2 linked regions of the Homo sapiens genome follow. The protein of the gene in region 2 interacts with the protein of the main gene of each other region in a pairwise test. Each region holds a gene or a part of one and is shown on either strand. Other genes may lie near its edges.

Region 1 (3,500 bases), on a different chromosome or scaffold from region 2:
ACTTCATTTTCATAATAATTCTATAAAATCAACACAATATTTTAATGAGGAAACTGAGGACAAGAGCTTAATTTGATCATGGACTACAGGGGGTAGGTGGCACAGCTTATTTTTAAATTTTAAATTCATTATGTTTGACTCAATTTAGGCTCTTTCCAATATAGTAATATTTGCTGATCTCAGCCTTAACTCATAAAATTACCTGTAGAACTTTAAAAAAAATTCCACATCCAAACCACATTCCATACCAATTAAATTGGAATCCACAGAAGAGAGACCCTTTACGGCATGTAATGCTCCCAAGTGATACCAACGTGCATACCCATGATTAAGAACCACTGCTATATACGAAGGGTTGGCAAGTTTTACTGGAACACACCTACCTTCATTTGTTTACATAGTACAAATGACTGCTTTCATGTCACAAGTGGCAGAGTTGATGAGCTGACTTTTATGACCAACAAAGGTGAAAGTCTTTTTTTTTTTTACTGTTTTAGCCCTTTACAGTAAAAATTTACCAGTCCTTGGTTCTATATCATATTATATACCCTAACCATAATGCTCTTTTGAGACCCATTTATTTTTTCCACCAAATAACACTGGTGGCATGGATAGAACCAAATTTGTGAGTTAAGCAAGGTTCGGATACCAAACTGGTATCAATGAAATGAAAATAATCCTTTTTAAGAGACGGCTGGGCACGGTGGCTCACCCATGTAATCCCAACATGTTGGGAGGCCAAGGTGGGTGGACTTGAGGTCACGAGTTCGAGACCAGCTTGGCCAACATGGTGAGACCCCCGTCTCTAGTAATAATAAAAAAATTAGCCAGGTGTGGTGGCATGTGCCTGTAATCCCAGCTACTTGGGAGGCTGAGGTAGGAGAATCGCTTGAACCCAGGAGGCAGTGGTTGCAGTGAACCAAGACTGTGCCACTGCACTCCAGCCTGGGCAACAGAGTGAGACTCCGTTTAAAAACAAACAAACAAAACAGATGTAAGAGATAAAGCATATTAGACCACCAATTAATTTATAATAGAACTAGTCCATTAACACAACCATGGCTAGGAGATACTTGATAAAAATTGCTAGTAATGTCATCTTTGAAAGTATGCATTGTGGTTCATTATTAATGCTTTTCTTTAAATCACTCCAATTATATGTGGCATTAATTTTTTAAATGAGGTTACTGCTGACTAGTTACCATCAAACAACCGCTACACCCAAAAGATGTTATTTATTCCTTTAAGGAAAAGTGTGTGTATTTAAAAACACTACAGGGTTCCCACCATACTGTTAAACAGAAATAATCCATACAGCACAAAGACAACGTAGCTCTAATGAGAAATCTGTCAAGGTCTTCTACATTAAGACAAAACAAAGTGCTAGCTAAGGAGTCTATCTACCCTTAATACTTCATTTAACTAAATTGTCTCAGGGATTTTATTGTTAAAACTTGATATAAAGTACAAGGAAAAAGATATATAGTATTCGTTATATATACACACTTGATTTTTCACACAGTAAAAATTTCACACACACACACACACATACATACACAAAATTCCTATCACTGAAAGCTAACCCAAATCTAAAAAGCCAGAGGAACATTTCACAGGATTACTATGGCATTTTGCCCTCTGGCAACTAAAAACAGTGATTCCTTTAACAGAAAATACTCCATCCTCAGATGACCACCATCGTATAAATCAGACACTGAACAGTTACAGTGCTTTGAAGTGAAAAAAACAAGCATTAAATAATGTATGACAGTGGTGGACAAGCCTCAGGCATGCATAGGAAACCTCAAACCCACTGAGCTTCTTCAAATAAAGATATGCACAGCCAGATTAAACTAAAGACTTAACAATGGTCTTCTCGTTTTAAAAAAATTCCCACTGTAAATGTGATTCTCTAAGATTCCTACGGAACTTTTGGAGAGAAATATATTGAAGAGAAAGGCCTCAGAGGCTTTGCAATGAATGCAAAGGTGAATGAAAATCAGGTGACAGTGGACAAACAAAATAGCTTCTATGGTGAGAACAGAACAGTACCTGCTCTAGGCCAGGTGTGGTGGCTCATGTCTGTAATCCCAGCACTTTGGGAGGCCGAGGCAAGCAGATCACCTGAGGTCAGGGGTTCCATACCAGCCTGGACAACATGGTGAAACCCCATCTCTACTAAAAATACAAAATTAGCTGGGTGTGGTGGCACGCACCTGCAGTCCCAGCTACTCAGGAGGCTGAGGCAGGAGAATCGTTTGAACCTGGGAGGCGGAGTTTGCAGTGAGACTCCAGCCTGGGCTATAGAGTGAGACTCCGACTCAAAAAAATAAATAAACAAAAAATAACAGAAGAACAGTAGCCCTAAACAAACTAGAATACCATAATCTCATAATTGGCAAAATTCTTTGAAACACTTAAATATGTTTTAACAGCCAAAAATAAAATAAAAAAGGTTAAGGGGGTCTCTGAAACGACAGTGATTATATATTACAACTAAAGATTCTATCTTTCCCAACACTGGGTATAAAATAGTGAGCACAGAGGCTAAAAATGAGGAAAGTCAAAGACCCGTACATGCAGCAGAGTCCACGTTCCTTGACAATATATGCAATACCTGGCTATTAATACATCTTTTGATAAACCCACATATATATGTGTTGAAAAAAGACAAAGAAAATATACCAAATATGTTATGCATTTGAATGACGTTCCCCCTTCTTTTGTAAACAACTTTAGTATTACTTTATAACTAAAATAATTCAATTAAAAATATACTTCAAGATTATATCCAACTAGAATTAGGATGAACAAGGAAGTATCCTTGTATAGATAATATTTACCTGGTTCTTCCTTGATGAGTAGTGTATTTTCTTCTGGATAGGCAACAGGTGGCTGCATTACTGAGCAATCTTCTAAATTCGTTTCATTATTAGGTGGAATATTATAAATAAATCTTTTTGTAGTTTGGTTTTTCCTCCTTGTTTTGCCAGTCTCTTGAATTCCCTGGGAGCCCATATTATTCCAAATAAACACTTTTGTTTGACCTTCAGATTCATTTTCAGCCATTTCAGGAGATCCATCCTGGACCCAACTACTGTCATTCATTTGGTAGTTTTCTATTTGGCCCTCGTCGACATTACAACCATCATTTTCAATCTTTACATTACTTGCCAAATTGGTAAGATTCCGTGTTGCCCAAAAACTGGCAATTTTTTGATCCCGTGATGAAGACAGACCATCTCTATTAACTGGTTTTCTATTATTATAGTCCACAACTACAGACTCTGGAGCTTCTGATTTAATGCTTATATTTAAGGCATCTTTAATGAAATTTCGGCAAGTTTGAACAACTTCACTCATTTGAAGATAGCTGGCCACGGTCATAACTTCAATGGCATTTTGGCTTGTGAGCACCAGGTTACCAGAATACAAGAAGTCCAAGATGACTGAAAAACCTTGAACTGCAGCAATATCTAAGTGGGTAGTATTGTTTTGGT
Region 2 (3,500 bases):
TATTTAAGACAGCTATATCTTCTCCTTGTATTGAACCCTTTATTATTATATAATACATTCTTTGTCTTTTTACTGTTGTTGATTTAAAATCTGCTTTATCTGATGTAAATATAGCTACTACTGCTCATTTTTGTTTTGTGTTTGCACAGTGTATCTTTTTCCACTCCATTGAGTTTGTGGGTGTTTTTACCAAAGGGTGTCACTTGTGGGCAGAAAACGATCAGGTTTTGTTTTTTAATCCAATTTGCCTGTCTATATGTTTAAGTGGAGGATTTAGGCCATTTATGTTCAGGGTTAATATTGATATATGAGGGTTTGTTTCCGTCATAATATTGTTACCTAGTTGCTTTGTTGTCTCAATTTACACTACGATTTTTATATCTACATTTATAAATGAAATTAGCCTGTAATTTTTCTTTTCCATACTGTCCTTGTCAGGTGTTAGTATCAAGGGTATGCTGCCTCAAAAAATGAGTTGGGAAGTGTACTGAGTTGAATAGTGTTTACCCAGAAGCTGTGAGTGTGACATTTGGAAAGAAGGTCTTCGCAGATGTTATCAAATTAAGATGAGGTCATGCTGAGTTAGGGTGGGCCTATAGAAGATCAGGAAAATTTAGACATGGAGGAAAGAAAGCCATGTGATTAAAGTGAGACTGGAGTGATGCATCCATAGGCCAAGGATTGCTAGAAACCATAAGAAGCTAGAAGAGGCAAGGAAGGATTCTTCCCTAAAGAAAACAGAAGAAGAATGACCCTGCTGATATCTTGATTACAAACTTCTATCCTCCAGAGCAATGAGAGAATAGATTTCTGTTGTTTTAAGCCACTTGGTTTGTGGCAATTTGTTATGGTGCTCTAAGAAACTAATAGAGAAAGTGGCCCCACTTTTTTGATTCTCTGAAATGTTTATGTAAAATTGGAATATTTTCCTTGACTTTACAGTAGACCTTGCCAGTGGAGTCTTCAGGGTCAAGTATTTACTTGGTGAGATTTCTGATTACTGATTGAATTTCTTTAATGATTACAGAACTATTTGGGTTTTCTATTTCTTCTTGAGTTAATTTTGAGAAGCTATTTTTTTTACATGTTCATAATATTTTCATTATCTTTCTTTTTTCACTGTTACAATAACTTTAATTTATCTTGTATTTTACAGAAGTCTATGAACGATTTTAAAAAAGCACCTCTTTACCCCATATCATGTTTCTCTGACAGTTGTTAAAGTAGTCTATACATATGTCAACAGCTTGAGCATCAGCATCTTGCAAGGATTTCACACCAACCAGCCACTAGCCAAAGAACTTGGCAGCTTTTTTATCTTGCTTTTAATACAATGGTATATCCACTCTGATGGCAAACTGGTTTAGCCACATATCCACAACACGCTTTGAAAAATCAGTGATTAGCAAATTAGTTAGCTTTGGCACAGGGCTGTGCTCGCTTGCCCATGACAGTCTGGAAGCCAGTTTTGATACTGGCAACAGAACATCTAGAATGACAAGTTTCACACTGTAGGAAATAAGAGTTGCATGTCCTTCTGCAGGATTGTGTCCAGTGATCAGCATGTGTGACAAGTGACATACTCCTTGATAAATCTTAAGACATTTTCTATCTGTTTTTGTTGGAATCTTCCTTTACAAGTTGGTTATTACCATCTATAGAACCACTTGTACCCAATTCAACCAACAAAAATGCAAGTGTGCTGACAATATAATAGTTTACAGATATCTGTAAAGTTGACAGAAGAAGTTTTCTTGGTTCCTACTCAGACGACCTGTGGAGGTTGCATAACGAATTTCTTTTTCTCCCCAGCAACCATATCTGGATTCTTTTCCCTCATGATGTTGAACACACAATTCAGCAGCTCCTCTTATGTGTAGTCTCCTTCTGAGCCTGCCCAAGCAGGGCCTGTCTGATTACTGAATGAGATACCATCATCTTTTTTGCTATCTTCATCTTCTAGAGCTTCATCTTTCTCTAGTAGTTCATCCTCATCTGGGAACTTGACATTCTTCTTTTTCTTCTTTTTATTCCAAGCATAATGTCAAGGTCATCCTCTGGTTCAGCTGGTTCTTGAACATCACTTTCAATCTTAAGATCCTTTACAACTTCTTCAGCTTCATCAATATCAAATATCTTTTTTGTTTTTTTTTCTTTTTCTTTTGATTAAAGAAGTTCAAGTCATCTAGATCATCAGAAGCATCGTTTTTCCTACTGTCCTCATTGTCAGCTTCCAAATCTTTGTCCTCAGTTGGCTCTGGCTCCAGACTTTTGTTTCTGAGGGCTGCGTTTCCTGTTTGAGTATCCCCTTCCTCATCTAACATAAAAGGCTTCTTCTTCTTCTTTTCTTCTTGCTCACAGTAGGATCAAAAATCATCTCATCTCCAGATATGGATGCGATTCCAGTGGGCTCCGCATGGATGGGAAGTCAGACAGGTCAGCCCCCAGGCCCCGTGGCAGCGCTGCTCCTGCTGATACCTCTCCCACCACCGCACTAGGCTCTTGCATCAGCCAAAGGGCCATTATCTTTCTTAAAGGCTACAGTATCTGCAATGATATCCCTTTCATCATTCTTTATATGCATTGCTTGGTGCCTTCTCTTCTCCTTCAATCTCTCCAGAGTTTGTCAATTGTATTAGTCTCAAAAAACTAACATTGTTGTTCCTCTTGATTCAAATGTTTTCTATTTCATTAATTTCTCCTCTTTATTATTTCCTTTCTTCTACTTGATTAGGGTGTATTTTACGGTTAGTTTGTCAGTTCCTTTACATAAATACTTAACTCATTATATTTCAGCCATTTTTCTTTTCTAATATATATTTTTAAAGCTATAAATTTTCTGATAAGTTTTACTTTAGCTGCATCCCTCAAGTTTTATATTATGTTTTCATTGCCATTCAGTTCCAAATTTTTTCTAAATTCCATTATTTCTGTTTTTACTCAGAGGATATTGGAAATTAACTTCCAAACATATGAGAATTACTAGTTATATTTTTGTTATTGATTTCTAGCTTAATTGCATTGTTGTCAGATAATGTATTCTTAATGAAATTTATTTAGATAAGATTTTATAATTCAGTATCTGGTCAATTTTTGTAAATGTTCCAGATGTATTTCAGAAGAATGTATATTCTCCCATTTTGGGGTGCATTGTTCTATGTAAATGTATTAAGTCAAGTTTCATAATCCCTAATACTTTTTTAGAAGAATAATTTTTTCTGCCTCCAAACTCTAATTACATTCTCTCATCTACCTTCTTTCTTACAAAGAAATATCAAGTTCTTTATCATTCTGAGCACTCTTCCCATGCATCATCGTCATCATCTTGGGTGACAAACCTTAAATTTCCAAACAGTGAGTAAGCCATTTAATAACTGGTTAAGGTTTGGGACATTATATTAATCTCTCCCAGGCTCAAAATCTCTTCTTACCTGTAAATGAGGATTGTAGGACTAACTGAGAATTAACATATAACATGTTTAAAAATACTATTATTTTTA

What was found. Proteins that work in one complex are often made in the same cells at the same time.
Region 1: the proteins of EHHADH (region 2) and ZBTB10 interact in binary tests that used the Homo sapiens proteins (3 or more experiments, as listed by UniProt).

What each region holds. Positions count from the first base shown.
Region 1 is NC_000008.11:80,499,726-80,503,225, reverse strand, and holds part of ZBTB10 (zinc finger and BTB domain-containing protein 10), read right to left. Parts: coding exon 2,844-3,500; intron 1-2,843. UniProt on the Homo sapiens protein: May be involved in transcriptional regulation.
Region 2 is NC_000003.12:185,244,050-185,247,549, forward strand, and holds part of EHHADH (peroxisomal bifunctional enzyme), read right to left. Parts: intron 1-3,500. UniProt on the Homo sapiens protein: Peroxisomal trifunctional enzyme possessing 2-enoyl-CoA hydratase, 3-hydroxyacyl-CoA dehydrogenase, and delta 3, delta 2-enoyl-CoA isomerase activities. Catalyzes two of the four reactions of the long chain fatty acids peroxisomal beta-oxidation pathway.